4 separate regions of the Homo sapiens genome follow, and regions 2, 3 and 4 are each linked to region 1. Evidence: fine-mapped expression QTL. A gene starts in region 1. Each other region holds a variant in brackets. All regions are shown on one strand. Distances are between the middles of the regions. Region 1 holds the start of NPHP4 (nephrocystin 4). Region 2 overlaps NPHP4 (nephrocystin 4). Region 3 overlaps NPHP4 (nephrocystin 4). Region 4 overlaps NPHP4 (nephrocystin 4).

Region 1 (7,170 bases):
CAACCAGCATGGCGTCAAAGCAGTTAGCTCTGTGGGTACCTGTGTGCTGGAGAAGTGGAGGAGGCTGCCTGCAAGGAGACAGGTGCCGGGGAAGCCGGCAGGGTGGGCATGGGGTTGCTCTGTCACTGAAGACACGCAGAACCTGGGTCTCTGGGGCTAACCATGTGGTCACTGCGCAGAGCAGGGAGTAGCCTCCTGAGACGCTGGCCAGCAGGGGTCTGAGTGGAAACCTGGGTGTGGCAGTGGCAGGGCACCCTCAGGCAGGGAGGGGCCTGAGCCCAGGGCTCATCCCATGGTGGGTGTGCAGGAAGAGGGAGGCTGGCCTTCATCTGAGTTCCCCAGGATGTGGCAGAGGACAAGAGGGCCCAGCATCTGCTCAGGCCCATGAGACAGGGAGTCTCACGCATCTGCCAAGCCCAGGCAGGCAGGAAAGCCTCGAGCCAGTGGGCAGTGACAGGACGAAGCCCAGGTGTGCCACCCCATCTCCCCCAGTGTGCTCTCTCCTGGGGAAGAGGGTCCTGTTCCCTTTGCCTCCTCGGGACTGGCTGAGCGGAGATGGTGTATCCCTTAATAGACTCACCCGAAGATAGACCAGGAGGGGCCTGAACATGGCGGGTCACCCGTCACCAAGGAAAGAGCAGTGTGGGGCTTCCCACGCCACGACAAAGGAGTGCTTCCATATCCCCCAGGGTCTGGGCCTGGGCCTCCAGGGCCTCTTGGGAGACTCACTCCTGCAGAGGTGAGGATTTCAGGCATTCGATGGAGCTCAGGTGATGGCGGAGGGGGCACCTCTCACAGAGTTCTGGCAGGGCAGGAACAGAATCAAGGTTTCCTCACTAGCTGGGAGGCCAGGATCAGTTTCACTGCTGCTCTGTGCCTCAGTTTCCCTATCCAGCCTCCCTCACAGGGTTGTTTACAAGTGCCGGAGGCGAACTGAGGTCATGAGTGTAGTTCCAGTGTGGGGAGGGTCCCTCCTTTCCTTCATCCCACCACGGACCTGGTGCCCTCACTCTTCTCTAACTATGGGGCCATCTCTTTGAAGGCCACGAACAACAGTACCCTTGCACCAGGGCCTGCATGCCAGGCAGGACTGAGTCGCTGAGAAATCTCCATGGTAGTGGCACCTCCCAGTCCCAAAAGCCCCTCCAGTGACCTGGACACACCCAAGGGCACTGGCTGCGCCCATGAATGTCAGCAATGCCTCCAAGTGGCCTTCTGAAGGGACAGCCGGTCATGTCCTCGGGGTGCTGGCTTCCCCCAGCTCGGACAGCCAAGGCATGAACTGGGCTCAAATAAGTAGGAAGTAGGGGGTCCAACCCAGCTCCGTCACTGCCTCTGTTGACCCTGGAGAAGCCTGTCCTTCCGTTTAGTCCTCTGAGAGCAAGGATGACCGGCTGCTGGGTGCCAAGACCCAAGTCCTCCTGGTGGTGGGAGGGGGACTGGCGGGAACATGGGGTCTATGGCCCTAGACACCTCTGGCATCAATCCTTCTCGAATTGCCGCCCCGAGCTGCCCACTGTCCTGCCTCCTTATTCAGGGACGCCAGGAAAACATTCACTCTGGGACCTCTGGCGGCGTGAATATCACTGAGAACTTAGCCGAGGACCAGACACATACCGCACCTGGCCAGAGTCCCTGGAAACAGAAGCACGGTCCCCTGGTTCTCGCGAGGGAGCAGGCTCTCCTTCCACACAGATGATGTGTTCCCAGTTACCACGGCAGAGCACCAACACACAGGAAGGTCTAGGGGAGGCCCCTCCCTCCAAGCCCAGGCCGGAAACTGCCAAATCAAAACTGTGTGGCACTCGCTTCCTCCTGAACCATTTGGGTCTTAGAAGATGACTGAAAAATGAAAGCGAGGAAGCCTTCTCTAGCTGGCCAGCCCATGGCACCCTCGGCCTTTCCAGCTCTCTAGCGCCATGGCCCACGTCCCACCTCCCGGGTGCAATGGCTTCTGTGCACACTGCTTCCCATCCAGGCTCCAAATCCAGACCCAAGACGGTTCTCAACCAAGAAACACACGAAAAGGGTTTCACACTTTTTCACGACACCCCCCAACTCCAGTGCCTGGCTCAGCCCCCAGGTGTTGACTAGCACCTACAAAGCATTTGCTGACTGGCGCAGGGAAAAAAAAAATGGCCCTGGGTGTCAACAGGGAAGCCCCTACCATGCTGCTCTCGAGGGATGTGCTGCGGCCCGAACACTGTCAGTGCCACTGAGGCCGAGTGTGGCCGTGGAGACAATGACAGGACCTGGAGGACCAAGTGCACTCTTAGGGCCCCACACTGCGAGAGCACAGGGCCAGGAGCTGCACAGGGCTCTGCAGCAGACACGGCCGCCAGGCGAGAATCAGGTGGGCAGATGTGACTCTCCACACGTAGGTCCCCAAACCCTGCAACCTGCAACGCGGGGCCTGAATGCGGCTTCCTTAGCAGAGCAGGAGCTTACTCTTGGCACTGGGGGAAAGGGGAGGGGTGAGGCTGGGGTTTTTGTCGGGGAGGAGAAGTTGCAGAGAAAGAAAAAATCCTGAAACGACAGACAGTGGGACAGCTGTGGCCTGAACTTGGTGTTCTTGCTCCTCGGATGTGGATGTATTAATTTCCATAAATGCTAATAGCCCACTTCCCCAAGAGCTATTACTTATGTCATCTCCCCTTGGACACAGTTCAACACAGGGCAGACAAATGAAAGGGAGGAAAAGACAACCCCCAGTGGCGGTCCCCAGCTCCTCAGCCCCCTCCCAACCAGGCAGCTCAGGTCTGGTTCCTAAGGTGGCCCTGCTAACCGCAGGGTCAAGACCCCTGCCTTCAGCTCCGTAGCCAGGTCCCTATCACGACAGGAAGCAAGAAAGTTACCAACCCCAAAAATGCTGAATCACAAAGTGAGGCTGAGCAGGAAAGTGGGGGTGGGGAGGGAAGGAGACGGTGGCCAGGGAGGAAAGGTGCTAAGGGGCTTTCCACCTGGAGCACCCCGGGATGCTGCGGGCAAAGCACAGTCCCTGTAAGAGCCCCCAGGACAAATGCCAGGAGGAGGGACACCAGGATGCGGCTGGTTGGCGGGGTGGGAAGGTGGGCAGGTACCCCGGCTGCTGCTAATGCCGCAGGACGCGGTGCAGCAGTGGGGTCTTTGCATCCTGGGAGCAGCAGCAGGTAGGGAGGTGCGGAAGTGCTTTGTGCCAAGGCCTGGCAGGAGGGAGAAGCTTAAGATAGGAGTAGGGGCTCAGGGTCAGAAGTGGCGGTGTGTGTGCTGTAAACAGCCCGAGGAACTGGTGCAGGAAGCAGGGTCACAGTCTTGGGGAGCAGGGTAAGGTGGTGAGAGCGTGCCCGCGGGGAGAGGTCGGAGGGGCTGGGGGCAGAATGGGAGGGTGGGGAAAGGGACCGGAGCGACACAGGGACAGGCAGCGAGAACGACGGATGAGCCTTGAGAAGCGATCAGGAGGAGAGATGGGGAGGACCGGGAACAGCAGCGCCCCGGTGGGGCTGCGCAGAGGCCGGGAGAGGGGATGAGAGGAGGATGGAGGAAAGGGGAGGGCGAGGCTGCTAGGACCGGAGCGGGCAGAGATGGGGAAGAGGTGCACCGGGAAGAGGGACGGCGGCAGGGGCAGGGGTCAGGGATGCGAGCTGAAGGGTCGGGCGGGCGGGAGGACAGGGAAGGAAAGACAGAAAGGGATGGGGGAAGGGAGACGATGGAGAAGGAGGTGAGGAGGCTGGAGAGGAGGTGAGACAGCGGCGGAGGCAGGGACGCAGGGCCGGGGAAGAAGAGATGGAGACGGGACCGCGGCGCCTGCCGCAGCGCGGGCCTCGCGGATACCCGCCGCCGCCGTCCCGGAGCAGCTTGGTGGAAAGCGCGCCCCGCCGGGGTCTCCCCGGTACTCACCTGGGGGCTCCAGCTCCGGATCCTGTGCCCCGCGCCGGATCTTCCTTCCCGCCCTGCCCCTGCGACTTTAGCGCCCCCGAATCCCGCTAGCTCCTGCAGGTTCCGCCAGCAGCATCTTCACCTCGTGGGACGCCCGGGGCCACGCCTCTTCCAGCTTCTGATTGGCTATTGTTCACGCCAGTCACATTACCATTGGTTGAGGGGTCGTCGGACATGCAAATCAGGATGGGCCCGCCGCCGCACCGATTGGCTGGCGCTCGCAAAGCGCAGCCCTCGACTTGGGCTCTGATTGGCTCCGCGGCCCTGACGGCGACAGTGACGCGAGGCGGGTTCTTGGACTGAGTGTGCGGCGCGGTGCGCCGCCTTCCGAGGCTCCTCCCGCGGGTGGCAGCGGACGGGGCGCGCCCCTCGGCCAGTCCTCGGTCCTCAGGCTTGTGGCTCCGTTGAGCACCGGCCGCCGGGCCTCTGGGTCCGTCGAGTGGAGACTCTCTGAAAAGCGTGGGCTCCGTGGCCTCCGGCGCGGCCGCGGCGGGTCGGTCTCCTAGGTAACGCGGCCCGCGGCGGGCGGAACCATGTGGGCCGGCGCCGCGGGGGAGGTTGGACGCGGCCTCGAGGCACAGGGGGCCTCAGTGTTGGCCAGAGCCTCGGGGTTCGGGGGTAGGGTGGTCCACGCCGTCCCTGCGTGGGGGCCCGGTGCCTGGGGTGCGGCGGTGGCGCGCGGCGGGGGCTGTCCCCGCGTTAGTCGCAGGCGTCCCCCCTCGTCGGGACACTTGGGGTCGGGGCCGCTGGGTGCCGTTTGGCTACGTGGGTTCCTTTCTGCCCTTGCCCTTTGCCCCCTGCCCCCTGCCCCCTGCCCCCTGCCCCCTGGCCTCTCTGCAGCCCCTCGGCTGAAGGGAGCGCGGTACCGATGTTCTGGGCCTTGGCTCCCCGCGCCCTAGTCCGCGCGCATCCTTCCCAGGCCGGAGTCCGCGGACCCCGCCTGGCCGCGCCCCTCCGCCCCTCCTCCCCGCCCCCCGGCTCCAGCTCCGGCTCCGGCTGTCAGTTCCCCGCGGTGGCTCTGCGGCCTTCGGGCGTCCCTGCGAGGCTTTGTACCCGGCGCCGTCCCGGCCTTCTGCGCCCCTTTCCTGCCTTGGAACCTCCCGGCCGACCCGGCCCGGAAGGCGCCACCCGCTCCCGCGTGCCCTTCCCCACGCGTGCAGGCTGCTCCCGCCCGCCCCCGGGCTTGCAGGCACCTCGCTGCCCGAGATTCCTCGTGTCTAACTTCTTAGGAGACCGCTGCTTTCTGCCTCCGTGTGTCGCGATGTGTGGCTTTGGTGGACGTCTGTGAAGGAAATCCAGCCTCTCGCGTGTGTAGTTGGCAAAAGGAGGAGTATTTCTGTTGATGGTGGGCAGCGCCTCCCGGTCCTAACCCAGGGCTCCGTTCGTTGCACCTCCTCTGTGCAGTTTCCGTAGGTCACACTTGTGTCTTTTTGTATGCTAATTTGTGCCCCGTTTCTTTACATTCTATGGGGGTAGCGAGCTTGTCTGCTGTGTTCAAGACCGTTTCTCCCGGGCGCAGGGTAGGTGCTGAAAGAATGCTCATGAATGAGGGAATTCCAGGCAGTGCTTAATCAGACCTCTGCTTCCCCAAAAGCTCCCCAAGGCATCTGGGTCTCAGGCATTACACATTTTCCATTCCGGGAAGGAGGCTTCCCGGACCCTGACAGCGCCTCCCACCCCCTGCATCTTCCTTCAGCCCTGCTCACCTCTGCACCCTCCCGGGGGCCTGTTGCTGCTCACAGTCACTTTCTTGTCTTTCTCCCCCACTGGCTTTCTAGATGCTTGAAGACAGCACATTTGACAGCCTTCTTATGCACTGGAACACAAGTGCTCGGGAAATAGTTGCTGAATAGATCAGCAGAAGCAGAGATCTCAAGGAGATTTCACAGCTCTCATTTTGGAGGTTGGAAACAGGTGGGGAGGCTGCGAATCTGTCCTGAAGTTAAAGAGGAGACAGCATTAGCCCTGGGTTCCTTTGGTGCTCTTACTTTTTCCCTCTGGGCCTCTCTTCTCCCTTGGCCTCTCCTGGCCTCCTTGATTGAGGTAGTGGGAGGTAGTTATAATAGCTTACAGTATTATATCTATAATACTATTATAATAGCTAGTTATAATAGCTAGCTGTGTGACCTTGGATTGGCTGTTTATCCTTTCTGAGTCTCAGTGTTCTCATCTGTAAGATGGCGATAATGATGATTCTCATTTGGCAGAGTTGTTGGAATAGTAACCATAGAATGTGAGTTCCTGTCTTGCATCAGGGGCTCATTAAAAGTGGGTGTATTTTCTTCTTCTTCTTTTTTTTTTTCCCCTGGAGAGCCCACTGTACCCTTTTCTTGGGTTCAAGACCTGGAGCCTTCTCGATTTTCTCTTTTATTGTTGATTTGGCCCCAAAGGCCCCTCTGCACTTCCTCCAGGGCATTTGTATTTCATCCTTAAAAGACTTTTGCTGAAGACCCAGCCTGGTGTCATGGAGCTCACAGTCTCGCAGGACTACAGCACAGCCCTGGTGAAGCGTGGTGGCTCTTCTGTCACCTGCCCTGTGTGGGAGCAGCCGGAGGTGGGGGATGGGGCTCTCGCTCTGAGGAGGGAGCATTTGGTTTGACTCCTAGAGGCCAGAGCAGAGGTGGAAAGGAGCAAGGAGCAGGTGGAAGGGCACCCGGAGAGGTTTGTGAGGTGCTGGGATGGCAGTGAGAGCTGCTGCGGGCGCTTGGGCTCCCACCTGCAGAGTCTCAGGTGTCACCTCGGCCTCCGTGGCCCCTCAGACTAGGACTGCCCTGCCTCCACATCCCGAGCCTCAGGACTTCCGTGTGGGTGGCAGGTGCTTTCGGAATGGATGCCCTTCCGCCTAGTGTCTGCCCTCCTAGTACAGCAGGGGGCCGGCATGCTTCATGCTCCCTGTGAGGGTCGACTGGCGTATGCACGTCCTTCAGCAGTGTCCTTGGGCCAAGTGTGGCACTGAGTCCTGCAGACACCCAGGGAGAGGGCAGGAGGCACCGGGTCAGAAATCTGGGGCAGGTGAGGAGCATGGGCATCTGCGTCAGGAGAGACTTCCTCTCTGAAATCCCCACCTGGGGCCATCACGGCCTGCATTGTGTGTGAATACATTTCTGAATGTTATAAAACATCAGTGGGAAAGAAAAGCTTGAGGGTAGCTTTGCTAAAGCTTCTGTTTGGTTCCGTGACCATTTACTGAGTTGTGACGGTACCAAGAACACAGGAGGAATGAGGCTTCTTTCTTCAAGAACTTGGCCAGCGAGC
Region 2 (7,170 bases), 80 kb after region 1:
AGTTCCTGTGACTCTTTCTTTTGTTTGAGAAGGACGAAGACAGGTAAGAAGCAGCCTGTCCTCCTTCTAGAAGCCTGCTGTGCTTTTAGTAGAGATGGGGTTTCGCCATGTTGGCCAGGCTGCTCTTGAACTCCTGACCTCAGGTGATCCGCCCACCTTGGCCCCAGAATGCTGGGATTACAGGCATGAGCCACTGCACCCGGCCTAGCTTGACTTCTTAAGATGCAGAGCTGTGGGGAACCATGCTTTGAGTTCCTCACCAGAAGATTTACTGTCATATCCTTGGCAGAGAGGAGTGTGCCTTGGTTACTGGAAGGACCAGGAGTTGAACGGTGGTGCAAATGAGCTGTAGCAGCATAATCTACTTCTCAGTCACTGTTTGGGGACCAGCAAATCTACATGGATGGACCCTGATTTCACTGAGTTTATTTAATTTGGATTTATGGCTGCATTCATGTCACATTAAATGATTACCTTCAGCCCAGGTTCCAAGCATTGGAAGACATTGCCTCTCAAAACCCAATGTAAGAGACTTTTAAATACCCACTAGTGTTTAACTTATGATGGAAACTTTTCATACTTCAGTATTTCACCAACTTATATGGTTCCTTTGGAGATCTTAATGATATGCGGCTGTCACTTTAAGTGAGGTACTTTGGCTCTCGGTTATGAATAATCCTTTTTATTTTCTCTGTAACATTGCAAGGGAGCAAAGTTTCATTCATCACTTACCACAGAAGAGTGTGCATTGAGCCGCTAGAGGGCACTCAGTCTTTATTTTTTTGTAACTTGGAATTTCCCTGACCTATATTTTGCTTTTGAATGTTCCTCTGGTGGTGTCAGAATTTTGGTTTGTTTGCTTAATAGATTTGAAAACAGCCATGTAGAAGGGGTCATTGCAAACATGTAATTGTGGTGTTTCCCAGGACACGTGGAGTTAGATTCCTGCCCCGTGGTGCCTGCTGTGCTGCTAGCTGGTCTGGAACATCCTCTCCGACAGACAGCAGCTCCCTTGTCCTGGGTGAGGGTGGTTCAGTCAATCACATGGTGGTGGGGGAGAGTCTAAGGCCATGGAGCAGCTTTTTGGCCACCCTCCAACCACGGAATGGAAGTTCGTGTGCAGGTGGTAAGGGTGCATTTTGCTGGAGAATTAGTGGGACAGTGGGTCAGAGCAAGGCTTTGACAAGGGAGGTGACACTTCTGAAACTGACCCTGGAGGTGACCCCAGCTCAGGGCTCTGGCAAGTCACGGAACTCCCCACTCGGCTTGGGCCTGCTGAACCAGCTCCTGTTCTGGGCTGCCTGCGATCTGGACTCCTGCAGTCCTGGGCTGCCTGGGATCTGGACTCCTGCAGCACAGAGTCCTGTGCTCACTCATCATCCAGTTGCCCCTTGATCTCTGCTTAGGTTTTGTTCATTTTCCCATTCCTGTTTTCAAACTCTTAGGAACAATGACTTTTTACCTACAAATAGTTAGGAATAAAGGCCTTTCAAGTGGGTTTGCCATGTGAATTCTTAGTGTCTAGAGTACCACTAGATACTGACTCATCCTTTATTTTCACGGCCTGATGAAAGGAAGCTACTTTTTGCAACCCTTCTTCAAACCCCAGAGACTGCATCTTTACTAGCGATGGTCCTTCCTTTCCCCTGCCTTTTGGGGCCATCTGTTTACCCCTGTTTGTAACAGGGCCACAGTCTACCCCCAAGGCCCAAGGCCCAAGGCCCAAGGCCTGGCCCGTCCCTGCCTTCCACCAGCTGCCATGAGTTGCTAAGCAACAGCCTCTGCGTGCTGCCCCCTCTCCCTCCTCCCTCAGGACTTCTCTCTCCCACGGAATTGCTGACCCCATAGGTAAATGCAGGCAGCTTTGCTCAGCTGGGCAGTTGCTCAGCGAAATGAGCATTTTCCTCTGTTAGGACCCCTCATCCAGCCCTCTGCTGACCCCTGTTTGCTCAGTGGCAGGCTGGCAGCACAGCTAGGCCCAGGAGGACAGGTGCGTTTCAGGGTGCGGGGGGGAGGTCTACCTGGCACCTGCTGGGGCAGTCGGGCCACAGGGGACTGGTGCTGTGGGGACCGCATTCACGACCCCGTTCACATTTCCAGAAAGGACACGTTGGCCTCCATGCATGTGTCCTGATGTTGAGAGGCCCCTGCTCCCTTCAGCCTAGGAAGACATCTCAATGAAGACCACAGCCCCGTCCTCCACTGAGCTGTTTCCTTATCTTCATTTCTTTCTGTGGTCCTGTCATAGCGCAGGCATCTGATAAAATGTTTGTTGGAAAATGAATCTATGGACGTGGGAAAGTAAAGGTGGTGAAAACATGTCCTTCCTTTCCCCTTGCTTCTATTTTCACTTTTTAATTGGCAATGCGCATGCATATTGAAAAGTTATGTGGCTTGAGGCGACAGATAGCTGCTCAGTGAAACCCTAGGTCAGGACATGGACACCGCAGCCTGGCAGTGCCGGGACTCCCTTGTGTAGTCAGTACTTTTTATTTTTTTGAGAGAAGATCTCACTCTGTTGTCCAGGCTGGAGTGCAATGGCGTAGTCACGGCTCACTGTGGCTTCCACCTTCCAGGCCCAAGTGATCTTCCCACTTCTGCCTCCCATGTAGCTGGGACCACAGGTGCATGCCACCACACCAGGCCTTTTTTTTTTTTTTTTTTTTTTTTTTTTTGTATAGATAAGATTTTGCCATGTTGCCCAGGCTAATCTCGAACTTCTGGACTCAAAACAGTCCTCCTGCCTTGGCCTCCCAAAGTGCTGGGATTATAGGCATGAGCTACCATGTCCAGCTGGTAGTCAGTACTTTTAATCTGTCTGGTGAGGTGACGCTGGAAGTGAGAGAGGGTTGTTGGTGGGGAGGCCGCCTCCTGCCCCAGCCCTATCCCTGTTCATGTCCTGGCCCGCGTGCGTGATGAAGAAGCGAAGCCCAGTGTACTTACTTTGCGGGGAGCTGCGTGCCTGGCGGCCATGGGGTTGGCTGGAGAGCTCCTTCCTCTGTTCTGGGCTGTGATGTTAGTGGTATTATTACTCTGGGTAACAATGTTCTTTTCTGTTCTCTGCGTTATGTATAGAATGATCTCCTTCGGGGTGGAGGAAGGAGGAATTCTGGGGAATATTGTCCCTGTGAGTATATTTGAGCATTATTTGTTCACTGTACAACTTCTGCAGTTCAACTCACCCACAGTGCTGAGAGCCATGGGCTTGAGGGCATGCCTGTCTCTCTTGCGTGTGGAATGTGTGTGGGTTGCATCCTCTTGCAGGGCCCCCTCCAGGCGAGTGCAGAGGCAGTGTGAAGACGTTGGCAGTGACCAGGTGGGATGCGTGGCCTCCCGGGGTTGGGATCAGAGTGCAGGCCCTGCCTTGCCTCCTGAGGCCTGTGCTGTAGTTGAGTGCAGGGCTTTTGAGTTTCTTGAAGCTAAATTGACAGAAAAGTAGACATTTGAGATTTTGTTGACTGTGGTTTTCAGCAAGTGGAGACTGATTGGAGAGTGATAGAGCGTCAGGGAAAAGGAATCTTCAGAGAGGTGGAGAAACCTGCCGTGGTGGGAAGTCTAAGTTTTTCTTTGTCTCTAGCAATCCATGTGGACCATTTCTGGATCACAGTTGGTTCTGGTGTCCTGGGAAACCAGTGACTTAGTCTCTTCCTGCTCTTCTCAGATCTGGCTCTGGGCCAGAGGTGTGTGCTGGCAACCCCATCTCAGGGCCCCGCTGGCCACGAGCTTCTTGGAGCAGCCGTGGAAGAGCTGAGTCTCTGTGCTTTTTTTTTTTTTTTTTTT[TG/G]AGATGGAGTCTCACTCTTTTTGCCCAGGTTGGAGTGCAGTGGCGCGATCTCTGCTCATTGCAACCTCCGCCTCCTGGGTTCAAGCAATTCTTCTGCCTCAGCCTCCCGAGTAGCTAGGATTACAGGCGCGTGCCACCATGTCTGGCTAATTTTTGTATTTTTAGTAGAGACGGGGCTTCACCACGTTGGCCAGGCTCTGTGCTCTTCTTCTTAACGCCAGGTTATTTCCCTGAAACCAGGGTCCTGTGGTGGCTCAGCCAGACGCTGATTCCCCTCCCAGTGAGGGAGCCCAGGCCTCTGCCGCAGGGGTGAGAACGGAGGGGCTCCGTGTTGGGAGAGGCACCTGGTCATGCTGCTTGCCGTGGAGGTCTCAGCTTTCCATTCTGTGCTGACTGTGTTACTACTTCAGGCTCCATCAGGGACCTACAGGTGTGTCTTATAATGACTGTTAAACTAACATTTAATTTACTTTAAGTTTTATGGGCAATGTAGGAATACGCGTTTCCTAGCATGTCTCATGGGTGTGGTTACCACGAGTTTGCCAGCACACCCGTATACACTGTGGGTTTCTTTCATTTTTCTTTTTTCTTTTTTCTTTTTTTTTTTTTTTTTTGAGACGGAGTCTCACTGTGTTGCCCAGGCTGGAGTGCAGTGGCGCGATCTCGGCTCACCGAAAGCTCCGCCTCCCGGGTTCACGCCATTCTCCTGCCTCAGCCTCCTGAGTAGCTGGGACTACAGGTGCCCACCACCATACCCGGCTAATTTTTTGTATTTTTAGTAGAGATGGGGTTTCACCGTGTTAGCCAGGATGGTCTCGATCTCCTGACCTTGTGATCCACCCGCCTCGGCCTCCCAAAGTGCTGGGATTACAGGCGTGAGCCACCGTGCCCGGCCTATCGTCACTTTTTAACTTGCCGCGGCTGCCTTCCCAGTTCTGCACACACCGGCTGGTCTCCTCCCATCCCATTGCTCCCCTGCCCCACGCAGGATCTGCCGGGTTCTGCTGAGGTAGCTTCCATTTGCAGGAGCACCAGGATTGTGTCTAATGTTTTGCTGTTGTCGCAGCGCTGCCCCAGACAGCCTTGTGCTCGTCTGTCTGCTCACCGCAGCTGCTCCTACCTGTGTCCTGTGCACACGCATGCTGCTCCCGGTTCAGTTGCTGGCCCAGGTGCTTGTCAGCCAAGTCCTGTTATGTGGCGGAAGTCAGGCTTCCCAGACTCCACCGTGGTTTTTGGAAGACTCCTGGGGCCTGGAGTACAGCGGGTGCTCCCTGGCGGCCGCGCTGTCCTCTGGGCAGGACTATGAGTATAGTTTGGGAAGCACCTTAACCCATAACCACATCGAACATTAAAACAAAGAGATTCGAAACTGAGTTATTTCGTGGCCTTGGTGTGTCTCTTCCTGCTCTGCTTCACCGGTTGGATCTGAGTTTTGGGCCCTGGGGGTCTGGGCTTCCCACCAGGTATCTTTTTAAATGGCCACCTTTAATGGCCTTTTTAAATGGCCTTGTAGGTAGGTTTACTCTCTTGGAAGAAAAAATTGCATAAGTCATGATATAAAGAGTTACTTGAAAAAACTTTCCACACTGTATGCAAATTTGAGACGATGGGGAAATAAAATGCATGCGAGAAGTTCAGATGTGCTTGGAAGGTTTAACTTTTCATCCAGCTTTTCCTCCCCAAGAGGACGCACACAGGCACGGAGGGCTGGCCCCCGAGTGCCCGCTGTCTCTGCTGAAGATAATGGAGCCATTTCTGGCAATTTGTCCTCATTATCAAAATCAGCCTGCGGAGTTTTCCGAGTTCCCATTTACGGAGGAACGGCGTGGAGCTTCACTTACCACTCTGCTGTGTCATCTTTCAGGCTTTTTCTGGGAGGAGGTGGGCAGGGGTTTGCCGTACGGAGCTCTGAAATGGACTGTAAGAGGCACTCAGGGAATCTGGGGAGAGGCATCGGCTTTGAGGACAGCTGGGCCCCTGCAGAATCCTCATCTGCATTTTGCTTTTAGTGAGATGATATTTTCCTGGGGAAGCAGAGCTTGCTAGATCATTTGCTAACTCCCTCCGAGCACGTGAGCTCATTTATAGAAGGGCAGGTTCCTCTGACCAGAGTCTTTGTGCTCCTTGGAGCCACGTTACTGTGGCTGGTTACAGAGGAGCTGCGCGGGCCAAATGGGCGCTGCCCAGGAGGTAGTTGGACTGGGAGCTGTGCCCGCCAGGCTGGGCAGTTGGATCCTCTGAGGGTTGGGGGCTCCCTCTGGCCTTGCCCCAATGCCTTCCACCCATCCACAGGCCCTTAGCAGGGTTTCCACCAGATCCTGCAGCTGGGGAAGCACCTCCTTGGATGGGTTCTGGAAGCTGCTGGGAGAGGCACGGCGGGGATTGGCTCCGATGGTCGTGCAGCTCTGGTGTTAGGGCGGCACTTTCTGGATTTGGTTTCTCCTTGGTCGACAGCATTTTCCTTGTTGTTTTTGTTTTTTTGGGATTCAGAGCGGAACACGAAGTGGCTGAGCAGTCTCTATCCAGAGTGCCCAGCGTTTGACGTCACAGGCCTCTGTGCTGTGTGCTTGGTCCGTAGGTCCCGTAAGTGCCGGCCTGTGCTCTGTGCCATAGGAATTCAGGATACCAGGACATATAGGAGATTCGTTTGCCCAACCTTCATGGCAGCAGAGGCCACAGGAGAGGGAGGGAAGGCGAGCTGCTGGGCCCAAGATGTGGGCCACATGGGGGTGACGGGAGGTGGGACAGGGCCATGGGGGAAGCCTGATTTCTCCGGAGGTCTGGGTTATCCTGGAAGTCCGATGGGGAGTGGTAGTGTCTGCTGCAGTGGAGAGTCCTGTCACCGTGAAGGAGGCTGTCATGAGCCAGGTGGGGACAGGACATGGGCTGGAGACTGGGCTGTGGGCCTCAGGGAAGCCAGGCAGATGACTCAGTGTGCAGGGCTCCCACCCTGGCCTCTGAGTGGGCAGAGGTGGCCCCGTCAGGATGGGCTTGGGGTCTGGCTTGGTGGTTTCATGGTGGGCAAAGGCAAATGGCAGTGTATGTGAAATGACCGTAAGAGACGAGTGGCTATGGACGCTCCAGCACCGCTGTGGCAGGAGCCTGGTGGGTTTCAGAGACTCCAGCGATGCTGGGGCTTCCTCCTGCTGAGGTGCAGGGGCTGAGAGCCCTGGGTCTGCTGGGCCATGAGGTGTCCATGTGGCCTGGGGAGGGGTTGCAGAAGCAGCACAAATGCCAGCTGGGCTGAGGCGGGGCTGGGCAGGTACAGGTGGCCCTGGGAGGAGGCTGCTGGCTCTTTAGGCAGCCCCTGGATGCTTGGGAGGCAGCTGTGGCCTTATAAAGGGCCAAGGCAGTTCTCAGTCCCTGGCTCCAGGGGGACCCCATGAAGG
Region 3 (7,170 bases), 56 kb after region 1:
AGAGGCCCATTCCCGAGACAATGGCATTCATCCATTCACTCCACCCTCATGGCCTCACCACCTCTCATGAGGCTCCACCTCCCAGCCCTGGTTTGTTGGGGATTAAATTTCCAACACATGCCTTTTGGGGGACATGTTAAAATTATAGCACCCCAAATGTTACACTATCTTTTGATGAGCGGTAGTTCTGATTTTAAGTCTAGCTGGCCTACTTTTTCTTGCACGTGGGATGCTTTCTGCCTGTTCCAGGGCAGGCAGCTCTTCTCTGTCCCTCTGCTGGCCCCACCTCATCCTCTGTTGTCCTCTTCCCTCCTTCTGTGCCCTGGGGTCCTGGTGGGGGTGTGACTGTCAACTGCGTTGGGCTAACTTTTTTCCCTGCTGGTGGCCCGTAATGAAAGAAAGCTTCTTGCTCCCAAGTTCCTTAAATCCAAGCTCATAGACAACGCGGTCTCACAGCAGGCCTGGGGCCAGCCTCACGTGAGCCCCTTCCCTGGTGTAGTCACTGGCATGGGGGAATGGGATTTCCTGTTGCCCTACTGTGTGGCTGAGGTGGGGGTTGCTTCCTGGAGCCAGGCCTTGTGGAAGGGCAGTGCCCACTGCAGTGGATGCTGGGCCCTGAATCTGACCCCAGTGTTCATTGGCTCTGTGAGACCCAGTGAGGGCAGGGAGGGAAGTGGAGCTGGGGTGAGAAGTAGAGGCCCTGCAGGGCCCACGTGCCAGCCACCAGGCCTCAGACTAGGCTCAGATGACGGAGAGCTGCACACCTGCCCAACCCAGGCCCTGCAGTGCCCACATGCCAGCCGCTGGGGCCCAGACTTGCTCCAGAGGGCGGAGAGCTTTACACCGGCCCAACCCAGGCCATGGCTCCAAATGCGTGACAGTTTTGCTGTTGCTTCTTTTAGTCATTGTCAAGTTGATGCTTGTTTTGCAGAGGACCAAGGCTTTATGAACCTATTACCCTGTGTGAAGAGTTTCACCAGGTTATGGAAATTTCTTTAAAACCATACCACAGTTTTTTCATTATTCATGTATATTTTTAAAAATAATTACTGCACTCAGTAGAATAACATGAAAATGTTGCCTGTTAGCCCTTTTCCAGTTTGCCCCGAGAATACTGGGGGCACTTGTGGCTGCAATGTTTATCCTGCGGCAGCTTTGCCATGAAGTATCTCACTTTTATTATTATTTTTGCATTGCTCGAGTATATTGACTTTGGAAACAAAAGACATCATTCTATTTATAGCATTATGTTTTTAGTAGTGGTATTTCCATATACAAGATACAGTAATTTTCCGTCAATGAAAATGTCAAATTCTAGAAAATGTAACATTCCTATGCGTGGTGTTAACATCGTTCTCTAACAGTTGTTGGCCGAAGATTCGTTTGATGAATCCGATTTTTCCAAAATAGCCGATTCTGATGATTCAGACGATTCTGATGTTCTGTTTAGAAATAATTCCAAGAACAGTTTTTACATTTTATTTTCACATTGAAAATCAGTCAGATTTGCTTCAGCCTCAAAGAGCACGTTTATGTAAAATTAAATGAGTGCTGGCAGCCAGCTGCGCTTTGTTTTTCTAAATGGGAAAAGGGTTAAATTTCACTCAGCTTTTAAATGACAGCGCACAGCCTGTGTCATAGAGGGTTGGAGGAGATGACTTTAACTGCCTGTGGTTAGGATTCCTTTCCCCCAGGAATGTCTGGGAGCCACTGCCGGGTTTGCTGTCCGTCTCGTTTGGACTCAGTTCTGCATGTACTGGATCCGATTTGAGGACTGAGTAGCTTCTGGTTGATGGCATCTGGCTTGTGAACCTCCGCTGTTGCTGGCAGTGGCTGTGCTGCTGTTGTGACCTCTGGGCTCCTGGTTCTTCCTGCTGCTCAGCCAGGAGGTAGAGGCACCAACGCCAGCCTGGCTGCCTGCCACCCCCAGCTCTTCACCTGGTGGGGCTCAGTCTCTCTGGCCTTGTGAAGTTCGCCTCAAGGGCCAAGAGCTCCGTGTCCTTCAGGGAGAATGCCGGCCAGCGAGCGAGCCATCGGGAAGGACTTGCCCTCAGCCCGTGCCCTGAGCTCTGAGTTCCGGAGCCACCCGCCGCTTGTGTGCCCCACCTGTCATGCTGCTGGGGGACACCAGGCTCCACCTCCAAGGATGCTCCTGGGTCTGTGCCACCCGCCGTGTGCGGCTGGTTGCTCTGTTTCCTGCGCCTGTATGGTGGTCATTTCACAGGGTGGGAGCTGGTGCACAGGGTGGATGGTGCCTGCGAGGGGTCAGCCCTGTCCCTGCTGTGGCTCTCACACCACGTGAGTGTGACTGCGCGTGTTCCCAGCCCAGGGCCTGAGCTGCTTTCCTCACACTTATCTTAGGCCTCCCTGTCTCCTTCGTCTGCATAATTATAGACCTACATTTCTCTCTCTTTTTTCTTTATGTCCTCTGTGATTTGTGTGATACTAGGAACATTCAGAGATGTTTTGACGCAGTAGTTTGTCTTTTTAAAATTTGTCCTCAGCCAAGTGCCACATGTCACCTCCATCGAGGTGGCAGTTCCCCTGGGCCCAGCTCTCTATCTGGATAAGGCCTTGAGACAGTGGAGCGTGAGTGCGCTGCTTGGCGGGGACCCCACCCTGTCATTACCCAGAGAACGGCCGCCATCCCCTTCACTGTGCATTCCCAGTTCCTGGGGCTGGAGGTCCCAGCAGAACTGGGCCCAGGGCCAGAGGCTGGGTGCCTAGGCAAGAGTGAAAAGGTCTCACTGAAAATCTAAACAAAATGAAGCTCGTGAAGTAATGTGATGTTTTCACCTTCGTCTAAGTAAGTTCAGGTTGATCTGAGGACAGAAGCCATCAAGGGCCTGTATGACTTTCCAGTGGCTTCTGTAACAAAGTGTCACACCCTCCACAGCTCAAAGCAGCGGAAATGTGTGCTCTCACAGCTCTGAGGCCACAGGTCCACAATCTGCTCTGCTGGCAAACCCCAGGTGTGGTAGGGCTAAGTTTCTCCCCAGGAAACCCCAGGTGTGGTGGGGCCCAGCTCCTCCCCAGGAAACCC[C/G]TGGTGTGACAGAGCCGAGATCCTCCTCAGGCAAAGCTCAGGTGTGGCGGGCCGAGCTCCTTCCGAGGAAACCCCAGGTGTGGCAGGACTGAGTTCCTCCGGAGGTTCTGTGGGATGGGGCCTCCCTGCCTCTTGTGGGTTTTGGGGCTCCTAGCTGTCCTTGGCCTGTGGCCATATCACTCCGTTCTCCGCCCCCTCGTCATGTGGCCTCTTCTCTGTGTCTCCCTCTGTGTCTGTCTCTCTCTCCCCTGCTCCTACAGGGATGCTTGCCATTGGAGTTAGGGCCAGTCTAGATAATGAAGGATTATCTCATCCCACAACACTGTAACTAATCACATCCACAGAGACCCTTGTTTCCAACAAAGCCACAGCCACAGGTTCCGGGGATTAGGCTGAGAGCATCTTTTTGGAGGACACATTGAGCCCGCCACAGGGACTCTGGTTTGTAGCATTTCCAGAGGCCAAGGGCCTGTTTTCTGTGAGCGGCTTTGCGTGGTAAATGCAAGTGTGGCACTTCTGTTCCACAACAAAACCTGACTCATAATCCAAGTGTATTCCTCATTTGTCTTTTGTGTATTGTGTATTTTGTCTTTTGTGTATTTGTACTTGTGTATTTGGTGCTGTTATACTTAAAAAGTCTAAATGGGAGCAATTCGGTGTATTTGGGGCTTTTTTTTTCTTTTCAGTTTGTGTGAATTCAAACCCAAGTTGGGCAGGAAAAGGAATGATGAAGTAGTGGATGTCATCTCAAGCACTAGGATCCACTGGCTGTAGGAGCGTGTTAGACTCACTGTGACTCTGCTTGTGCTTGGCCTTCTCTGCAGAGCCAGGTGGTTTTCGGGCAGTTCCTGTCTGCCGGTCCCTCTGTGGGCTGGCAGTGAGCAAGTGTGGGCAAATACATGGCGACTGGCTTCCCACCAGGCCCCCATTCGCCTGTTGAGGTCTCAGAAAGAATGATCAATAATTGGCTACACAGATTTTTTGTTGTTGTTATTAAAGCTGTTAAACAGAAAAGTGAGGAAAAATGCATGTTTATGTAACTGACAGATACTTTGCACAGAGGAGATCATCTACTGATGGAGAACCAAAAAGAACTGTGAAATTGGAAAATTAGATATTGGAATCCCCTAAGTGGAAAATTAGAAGTTGTATAGATAGCATGAAAACGTAGATACATATTTTACTTTATTTTGTTTTTGATCCTGTAATAATACACTTCTGTATTTTATAATGATAACTGTTTACAAAAGTAGTCTAGACATTGTTGAATCCTTATAGTGACAAGTTTTCCTAATACATTTATAGTAATTTGATTTTTTTGTTGTTGAGATGGAGTCTCACTCTGTCGCCCAGGCTGGAGTGCAGTGGTGTGATCTTGGCTCCCTGCAACCTCCACCTTCTAGGTTCAAGCGATTCTCCTGCCTCAGCCTCCCGAGTAGCTGGGATTACAGGTGCCTACAACCATGCCCAGCTGATTTTTGTATTTTTACTAAAGATGGGGTTTCACCATGTCAGCCAGGGTGGTCTTGAACTCCTGACCTCAGGTGATCCACCCGCCTCGACCTCCCAAAGTGCTGGGATTACAGGCGTGAGCCACCGTGCCTGGCTGTAATTTGATTTTTAAAAAGCAGTGGAGTTATAATCACCATGTCGTTGGTATGCTATAGTTGCTCAGCACTGTTTTATAATCTGTTGTCAGCTAACTGGATGGGGAACAGGAAGACATTGTTTTTGTATTTGGCAAATGTTGAAAGTGTGGCTTAGAGTCATATGCTTCCATTTCTTACTTTTCTGATTCTATGTCCTTCCATGGTGTGGGTGTTTTCTCATTGAATTGCCAGGGACCACCCAAATCCCCGCTCACCCTGTGACGGGGGCGTGAATGTGGCAGTAACCTGGCCCATGATCTGGAATTTAGCTGCAGCAAAGGGCTCTGCAGAAGTGGATGGTTTGAAGTCCGATTGTGATGGGAAAAGAGATTAATGTGAAACAAGATGCCGATTCTAAATTTTTATTAGGATATAACAGGATGGGATATCATCTGGCAGGAACAGTCTGGAAGAGGCTAACTTGGAAGAAACAAGAACTGTTTTCTTTTCTGTATTCACATCTGCTTGTATATGAAGTTGGCTGTGGTTTAGCCCAGTAGAGACCATGGGGCCATCTGTGTCCGGATTTTAGAGGCCTTGAGAGCACGCATGCATGCGGGGATCTGTGTGGGACCTGAGTGCAGTCTGGGCAGTGACACTGGTGTGGCTGTTCCCCACTGGCATGTCCAGCCAAATAAGCAAAGTCCCTTAGGACCCCTGGCCACCACCACTGGAGTCTTGCCTCCTCCTTCGCTCCCAGGGCAGCGCAAATTCCTGGATCCTCTGGGTGTCTCTGTTCCTGGTGGATGCTGTGCTCCACCCATCCTAGGCAGGGCATGGGCGTCCATTCGTCACCAAGAGTGGGACGCGTCCTCCTTCCGGGCCACCTCCTCGCTGTGACCATGGCTGCGCTTGCGATGCTGCCTGGGTTCATGCCCTCAGGCAGCAGTGTTAAGAGGGATGCCCTTGGCTGCCTTAGCCAAGCCCGGGACTGGGAGCAGTGGGGAGCCACCCCATTTTACTTTTGTCACCCCTGAAGGGTGCAGCTGTCTCTGTTAGCCAGGGCTGGGGGGAAGCCGTAGCAAGTGGAGCACTGTAGGAAGTGGAGCACTGTGCTCATGGTCCAGTCACCACCTCCTGCTTGGGGGTTGTTTCTCCTGCGCATGGGACACAGAGGCTGGAAGTCCCAGGTGGAAGTGGACAGCTGCTCCTCCTTCCTCTGGGCTGTTCCGGTGGCTCTGGTCTAGGCAGCGCTCCGCAGCACTTACTGATCAGTGCAGCTGTGATCTTAGGAGTGGAAAGAGCTCTAACTGGGGCTCCTGGTCGGACCCGCTGTTGCCTGTACCCCATGGGCCTCTGGCTAATCGGCTTCCTGGTGACTTAAGTGTGCTCCACCCACCAGGGGAGCCTGCAGGATCTGCAGGCAGGGCCTTGGTTCAGAGCTGATCACCTCTGGAGTCCTCTTCAACAAGGTGGCTCTGCTGGACTTTGGGGTCCAAAAAAGACCGGGGTTTAGCTTTAGTCCTACTTCTTTTTAAGTAAATGGATGAAAGTTGGTAATTTTAAAACTCTTTACTCAGTCAAGCCGTGAAACCGTGTTTGTGACAATGACTTTAATGTGGTTGTAACCCAAGGGATTGGTTTTCACAGTGTCCTCATTCCTTCCATTTGGCCAGCCAGAGAGAAGCAGAAAGAAGGAACAATGCCTGGAATTTGACCCGATCGATTTCCCAATTTCCTGAAAGCTACAGATACGAAATGTGCTATTGTAAGCTGGAGCTTTGTGGAGAAAATGTGTGCTAATAATGCTGAGTTGAATATACATGTGCATTCTTCGTTATTTTACCAAATTTCTGATTAGGAATTCAAAGTGCTGTTCCTAGTATTTTCCTGACGGATTTGAGTTGGTGTTGGCAAGGTGCAGAGTGTTTACAAACCTATGGAAAGATCCTTATGGGAACAGGGGTTCATAAAACAGTGCTGGTCTCTAAGGGGGAAGCCATCACTACCTTGGGCCAGAAAAGGAGACTCATGGGTGGGCAGGGGTCCTGACTGGGTCGGTGGGGTCATGTAACTGAAGACTATCTGTGCCCTACTGTCTGCACTGTGGATGCCATGTCCTCCTCCTGCCCTAGTTCCTTTTATAAAATGCAACTGATGATCCCTGCCCCTTGCTACACTGAGCTCTCGTTGAATTTTACACATGAAAGCACTGTTGATTTCCCCTCTCCAGGTGACTTCTGTGATAACTCATACACCGATGTGCTTTGTTTTAATTCTAGGCAGCTTCGGTCACCTCTCTGTCCAACCTGGCATGCATGCACATGGTCCGCTGGGCTGTTTGGAACCCCTTGCTGGAAGCTGATTCTGGAAGGGTGACCCTGCCTCTGCAGGGTGGGATCCAGCCCAACCCCTCGCACTGTCTGGTCTACAAGGTACCCTCAGCCAGCATGAGCTCTGAAGAGGTAAATTATTAGGTATTTCTTATGCATCTCCGGTGAGCTTCTAGCAAGTTCATTCATTTTCAAAAGCAAAAGT
Region 4 (7,170 bases), 100 kb after region 1:
ACCATGCCCAGCTAATTTTTGTATTTTTTTTTAATTATACTTTAAATTCTAGGGTACACGTGCCCAACGTGCAGGTTTGTTACATTTGTATACATGTGCCATGTTGGTGTGCTGCACCCATTAACTCATCATTTAACATTAGGTATATCTCCTAATGCTATCCCTCCCCCCTTCCCCCACCCCACGACAGGCCCCGGTGTGTGATGTTCCCCTTCCTGTGTCCATGTGTTCTCTTTGTTCAGTTCCCACCTATGAGTGAGAACATGCGGTGTTTGGTTTCTGTCCTTGCGGTAGTTTGCTGAGAATGATGGTTTCCAGCTTCATCCATGTCCCTACAAAGGACATGAACTCATCCTTTTTTATGGCTGCATAGTAATCCATGGGGTGTATGTGCCACATCTTCTTAATCCAGTCTATCATTGATGGACATTTGGGTTGGTTCCACGTCTTTTCTATTGTGAACAGTGCCACAAGAGCGAGGAGATGACGGTCCAAGACAAGGCTGCCTTTCCATCTGTTCATTTCTACTGTGTGTCTTTCTGAAGAATTTTAAAGTTTATGTCATATGGGTTTTGCTATTGTTTTGTTTTCTAATTGATTAAATTTTGTGTTTATCTTTACCGTCCCCTCATTTCTCCTTGATTTTTGGTATTCTTTACTATCTTCCTATTTTTTTTTTGAGCTGCTTAATTCATTTATCTTAATTCTTTTGTTTGTGTGGATATACCAGGATTCAAGGCTATGAATTTTCCTGTGATTACTGCCTTAAGATTGTTGATACTGATAAGTAGTATTTTCATTATTATTATTGTTTCCAGAAAATCTTTTTTGATTGTGTTTTCCCTTTGACAGAAAGTTATTTATGAGTAAGTTGCAAATTTGTTTCTTAAAAAATTTTACCTTTTTTTTTTTTTTTGAGACTGGGTCTTGCTCTGTAGCCCAGGCTGGAATGCAGTGGCGTGATCTCAGCTTACTTCAACCTGCACCTCCTGGGTTCAAGTGATGGGCCTCAGTCTCATGAGTAGCTGGGGCTACAGGCATGCACCACTATGCCTGGGCAGTTTTTGTGTTTTTTGTAGAGATAGGGTTTCACCATGTTGCTCAGGCTGGCATATTAATTTCTAGTTTATTGCATTATGTTAAGAGAATATTATTTGTAGTATTTCTACTTTATGGAGTGCAGTTTTTTGTGGCCTGTGGGTGGCAAGCCAACCAGGTGCTGAGGCAAGAGAACGAGGACATGAGCTGTTCCAGTATAATAAAATATAAAACAAGAATAGTTATACCAGATATAGATCTTAGATGTGTTTATATATGAGTATCATTAATCATTAGTTTGTAGCAATTACTCTGTATTCCAATATTATAATAATCCTCGCTCTACGGTCATAACCTAGGAAAAACCAGGCCATACAGAGATAGGAGCTGAGGGGACACAGTGAGAAGTGACCAGAAGACAAGAGTGTGAGCCTTCTGTTATGCCCAGACAGGGCCACCAGAGGGCTCCTTGATCTAGAGGTAATGCCAGCGTCTGGGAAGACGCCCGTTGCCAGGCGGACCATGGTCTAGCGGTAGCGAAAAGTGTCAAGGAACAACACCCGCTACTTAGCAGACCGGGAAAGGGAGTCTCTCTTTCCCCGGGGGAGTTTAGAGAAGACTCTGCTCCTCCATCTCTTGTGGAGGGCCTGACATCAGTCATGCTCGCCTGCAGTTATCCGGAGGCCTAACCGTCTCCCTGTGATGCTGTGCTTCAGTGGTCACGCTCCTAGTCCGCCTTCATGTTCCATCCTGTCCACCTGGCTCTGCCTTCTAGATAGCAGGAGCAAAATTAGTGAAAGTACTAAAAGTCTCTGATATGCAGAAATAATGGTGTAAGCTGTCTTTCTCTTTGTCTCCTCTCTCTCTCTGCCTGGGCTGCCAGGCAGGAAAGGTCCCCCTGTCCAGTGGACACGTGACCCGCGTGACCTTACCTATCATTGGAGATGACTCACACACTTTACCCTGCCCCTTTTGCTTTGTATCCAATAAATAACAGCGCAACCAGACATTCGGGGCCACTACCGGTCTCTGCGCATTGGTGGTAGTGGTCCCCTGGGCCCAGCTGTCTTTTCTTTTATCTCTTTGTCTTGTGTCTTTATTTCTACACTCTCTCGTTGCCGCACACGGGGAGAGACCCACCGACCCTGTGAGGCTGGTCCCCACAGTGGCCTAATACATGGTTCGTTTTTATTAATGTTCCAAATACACTTGAAAAGTTGTTTTTTCTGTCACTGGGGTGCTGCGTTAAGGTCGATCCCTGCACCCCACACCCCTGCCACCGTGGGAGTTGGCCACTCTGCTCTTCTAGATTGTCACTCATTCATCGTTGCCTGGATCTGCCTTTGAATGGAGAGTGGTTAGTTTCTACCATTACTGTGTTTTCTGTTTCCTCAACCCCAGAAGCAGTGAGGATTCCAGCCGGGCTGGGGCGTGGTGTTTGTGAAGGGGGTGCAGGAGGTGGGCTTGGGGAGGACAGGGCCACTGCCCCTGGGAGTCTTCTTAGTTCAGTTGGAGGCCAGCTTCCTGGACTTCTGAGTGGGATGGAAATGACACAGGGTGGACTGTGGGGAGCTTGGACCTCAGGGGTGGCCACGGAGGAGCCACTTGTCTCAGCTGGACAGGGAGGGGAGAGGTCTGAGGCTGCAGTGGGGAGAGTACGCGCGTCCCAAACACAGCTCGACCCAGTGGGACCCTCTGTCTTGTCTCCTGGGGAGCTCCTTCCAGTGCCCCGCTGGACCGGCCCCCATTCTGTCACCACTATACCCCAGCACTGCCAGGGCCTTTCAATGCTACCATTAATTCACTTACTCAGCAAACAAATAACTGCGCCCCCACCATGTGGGAGGCCCTGCACAGGGTAGTGCTGGGAGAACTGGACAAGCAGGGCCCCACCCTTAAGGAGCTCTGGGTTTCAAAACAGGGAGACACTGATCCCAGAGCTGACAGCATGCTGAGAGCTCCTGGAGTGGGGGGCAGGAGCATGCTAGGCACGGGGCCATCCTGGTCTAGGCTCCTCTGACCAGCCTCCCAACTCTCACCCACTGTCCGACAAGCCCCAGTGGGATGATCCCGGTACCTCAGTTGGAAATGCAGAAATCACCCATCTTCTGCGTCGCTCATGCTGGGAGCTCTCACTAGATGCCACAGTCCAGGCAGGGGTGGGGGCTGTGTGGCTGGTCACCTCTGAGGTGCCACACTGGGGACATGCCTGCCCTTGCGTGATGTTAATCACCAGCTCCTCCTTGGTCTTCCTCCAGATTCCTTATTTGCCTTTCTGCCCCAAGATGCCCCCGTGAGCTCCTGCTGTGGCCAGCGCCGGGCCTGAGCAGTGGGTCCTTGCTCCACCCCCTTGGGGCCCACCCTGGGCCCTGCACTCTTCGCTCCCCCTAGGTCCCCTGTCCGGACACATTGTGCTTACTCCTTGTCCTCTGGTCTTGAGAAACGCAGATGGAATGTGGTCTGTGGTCATCCTGTGGGGCTGGAGCCTGGGTGGAGAGGACCTGTGGCCAAATTTCAGCCTGGCTTGGGGCCTGGCACTGGAGGTGCTGAGTAAACCTTCGCTCCTTCCTCTGCTCGTTGGGGGCTGTGGGAATGTTGTCACCATTATTGATAGAAAGAGAAATAATGTTGTTTTGAAATGCTTCTCACCATTGCTGTTCCTCGAATTTTAACTAAGGATGGTTTGAATGGCATTTTTGTCAATTTAGAATTAATGATAATGTCACTTCAAGAAGATGAAGGCAGGGGCCGCAGTCCAGTTCCCATCTCTTAGCCTGATGACCAGGGCAGACCGCACGGGAGGAGCCC[G/A]GGATACCCACGGGGCAGGTGCCGTCCTGCTTTAGGGCCAGGAGAGGGGCTGCTGGGTGTCCCACACATCATTCTAAGCCTGATCTCGGTTTGAGCTCTGCCTGTGTGTGTGAACATGCCAGTTTTGACAGCAGATGTAGACTACATTTTTTCTTAAATTCTACACGCCCAGAATAATAAACTCCCTAGCCAGCCTCATAAGGACATTTGTTCCCATCCATCTTAGGCTGTTACAAGGACTTGGTGAAACCATAAATCTTATTTTGGGAGGAGTTTATTGTTTCTATGCGAAAGAAATGTAGTCTTCTGAACATGACTCTTCATTCTGTTAATTTGAATATTTTATGATGTTTTTGATTAATGTGTTTATTAACTGTAGCTATGACAGAAGCAGAAATTAGTAATCATGACCAGAGCTGAAATCTCTTCCAAGTGTAAAGATGATGAATGACTCCAATTACTTTTGGCCTCCTTTGGTGCCTCTTTGACAGGGTCTCCTGGCTTCCAGCTGAGGTACATGGTGGGCCCTGGGTTCCTGAAGCCAGGTGAGCGGCGCTGCTTTGCCCGCTACCTGGCCGTGCAGACCCTGCAGATTGACGTCTGGGACGGAGACTCCCTGCTGCTCATCGGATCTGCTGCCGTCCAGATGAAGGTAGCGGCTCTCTGGAAGGACAGGCACAGTGGGTGCTGCGTCCCTCATGGGACGAGTCACGCTTCCAGCGTCTGTCTGCTTGGAAGGAGCGGGCGCTATCCCGCACAGGACTTGTTTGACCTTCTTTGTTCACTCGTTAAAAATAGTGCTGCATTCTCTGTTTCTTGAAAGGAAAAGATTTTTCACTGTCTGAATTCTATAATGCTAGTTGTTTGCTCAAGAAACTCTTAAGATCAAACTCAGTTATCTATTTCTCCTGCAAACTGACCTACCAGGCAGTGTCACTTCATCTCCTCCCATGTGGTGAATGTGGTGAGGGCAGGTGCATCCGAGGTGGGTTGAGGATGAATGAATGGATACGCGAATGACTGGGGTGTGCAGTGTGACCTGATTCCTAAGGTCAGTGACGTGTTGTTCTTTTCTCATTCTGGTGAAAATTAGAATCTCTTTTACTAATTGTCCTTTTCCATTCTCCTTGTATACTAAAACCTAAATCCATGGATTCTTTCACTCGTCTTCCCTGGAATTCTTCCCAAGCCTTCTCCATTGTATGAAGGGGACCCCATGACAACTCTTGGGCCAAGGACTGGGGCCAGTTTCACACGCTACCATGGTGTCCTGAGACTTCTCTCAGGCCACGGGACGGAGCTGGGAGAGGATGTGGCGTCATTATTGCAGCCCCTGAGTCTCTGAGATTTCCCCACTTTTCTTGAGTGCCGCATAGCTGCTTTCCTCCTGGATTCCTGACACGGCTGAACCCCCGGGGCTTCCTGTCCTCTCCAGCAGCTGCTGACCCCTGAGAAGCACGGCTCCTCTGCTCCTTCAGCTGCGCTGTGCTCTCGGGGTGGGGGGATGGGGTATGGGAGTTTTTCCAGCTGCTCTTCCTCTGAGGCATGGTCTGCTCTTGGCTCCCCGTGTGACCGACTGATCCAGGCTCCATCCCTGCTCCCTGTGACTTCTAGAGGAGGGGGATGCCCCCCAGGGTGGTGGGCTGTGCACAGAACGTTCAGGGTGGGGTCTGCAGGTGGCAGGGACTCCGCAGGGCTTGGCTGCTCTTCTCATGCCTCACCCTGGGCCTCTGTTCCTGTTGGGGTCATGGCAAGGGCCCCACAGGGTCATCGTGGCCCTTGCTTGTCCGTCTCCCATGCTGGCTTTGATGTCCCCAGGGCAGGACTGTGTGTCGACACCACAGCATCTCTAGCACAGGCCTCAGCCCCAGCAGGCTCTGCATGGTGGGGAGGCGTAAAGGAGGCAGGCGGTGTGGGAGGCAGAGCCGGGTCCCGCTGGGCATGTGTGGGGTGGCAGTGGCTCCCCTGTCGTGCCCAGCCGAGCCTTGTGCCCCCTCTTTGCTGTGCCACCTGGAGACGGAAGCCATTTGATCTCCCCCTACACGAAGAGCCCCTTAAACAAGTGCCGTTACGCTTGTTGACATAGACTTGAATAAATTAAATTTAAAGCTTCACTTTTCTAAAATAAAATCTTGTAACTTTAAAACTTAGGTAGAAAACGTGAAAAACTGAGATGATCAGAGAGAATCCTCTGGACTCCAGATCCTGGGAGAGTTAGGTTGCTCCGGTTAGCCTTTGGTGGACTTACTTTCTGCAGGCGGGGCCAGCTTTCATCTTGTTTGAGCTCTTGCTGTTGCGGGTCACTACAGTGGCTTTTCCTTCTGCTAATCACTGCTGTGGACTTCTTGAAGTTCAATTTTACCCCCATCTTCTAGTTGATTTCCTGGGGGTGCTGGCCGTAACACGTTGCTACGACGATGAGAAGAGTTTCCTCTAGGGACGGACGGCTCCTGTGCTGCCTTCAGTGTGACCCCTAGCCCAGCCCTGGGGCAGTTCTGTTTTTATCCTTGTTTCTGGTGGAGAAAACAGAGGCCCAGGGTCACACTGATGATCATCAGGGCAGAGTCTTAGCCTAATTCTGTCTCCGGGGCTTGTGCTATTTACCATCCTCTTCTCCCTAATGACATGTTCCCGGAAGTAGAATTCTGATGGTGCCACCGTGAGGGCCGCAGGCATGCAGAGCCAGATGGGGGTTTGGCCCGAAGGCTCAGCCAGGCCTGCACTTCCTGAAGACAGAGGGCACTGTGTCCCATGTCCTTGGCTTCACAGTGTGTCAGCCTTTAAACCAGTCGCCAGTGGCCATTTTGATAATGATTTGGGAGGAAAATGGTGCCTTGTTTTCATTCGCATTTCCTTGCCTCTTGGAGAAGCTGACATGGTTTCTTGTATTTGTTGGCTGTTCCCTAAAGGAGACTTCTCATATCTTCTCAGTCTCCCAGTGACTGAGGTTCCGGAATCATCGATGTCTATGCAGTGATCGTATGCAGTGTAGACGAGTGTGGCAAAGCGACCAGGGTCTGCGGCGACCGGAAGCCCCCAGACCCACAAGGGAAGGGTCAGGTCTGGCGTCTCACTCCCAGAGACAGGCACTTTTGTTGCTGTAGAAACTGGAGAATTACAAAATCCGGAACCTCATCTGCTCCCACACTGCTTCTTATGTGAGAGGAAGCACCAGAGCAGAGAGGGCACGGGGGAAGAGTGTCCCAGCCACGCCTGGGGCACAGCCGTGAGGCCGTTGTCATCCCCCACATGCCTCACAGTGTTGGCGTTCGGGCAGAGTGCTGAGCCGTGGAATCTGATCAGCAGAAGAGCCCGTGGTCAGGA

The links. PIP is the estimated chance that this variant, and not a neighbour inherited with it, causes the effect.
Region 2: its variant is the best candidate, but not a certain one, in a credible set for the expression of NPHP4 in monocytes (BLUEPRINT, PIP 0.71).
Region 3: its variant is the best candidate, but not a certain one, in a credible set for the expression of NPHP4 in skeletal muscle (GTEx, PIP 0.88).
Region 4: its variant is the best candidate, but not a certain one, in a credible set for the expression of NPHP4 in blood mononuclear cells (TOPMed, PIP 0.50).

The regions. Positions count from the first base shown.
Region 1 is chr1:5,989,495-5,996,664 of GRCh38, reverse strand. It overlaps NPHP4 (nephrocystin 4), which reads left to right and starts at 4,240. Exons shown (of 30, transcript NM_015102.5): 1 at 4,240-4,421. It also overlaps a transcript of KCNAB2 not described here. RefSeq lists enhancers at 2,891-2,940, 4,817-5,671 and silencers at 3,691-3,940, 4,021-4,200, 4,241-4,410, 4,561-4,740.
Region 2 is chr1:5,909,763-5,916,932 of GRCh38, reverse strand. The region is part of intron 11 of NPHP4 (nephrocystin 4); the gene reads left to right. Among named protein-coding and RNA genes, the nearest start is that of MIR4689, 51 kb to the right of the region's middle. The variant TG/G (reference allele first, on the strand shown) is at 3,781.
Region 3 is chr1:5,933,074-5,940,243 of GRCh38, reverse strand. It overlaps NPHP4 (nephrocystin 4), which reads left to right. Exons shown (of 30, transcript NM_015102.5): 10 at 6,915-7,097. Among named protein-coding and RNA genes, the nearest start is that of NPHP4, 56 kb to the left of the region's middle. RefSeq lists an enhancer at 153-653. The variant C/G (reference allele first, on the strand shown) is at 3,044.
Region 4 is chr1:5,888,196-5,895,365 of GRCh38, reverse strand. It overlaps NPHP4 (nephrocystin 4), which reads left to right. Exons shown (of 30, transcript NM_015102.5): 17 at 4,338-4,498. Among named protein-coding and RNA genes, the nearest start is that of MIR4689, 29 kb to the right of the region's middle. The variant G/A (reference allele first, on the strand shown) is at 3,847.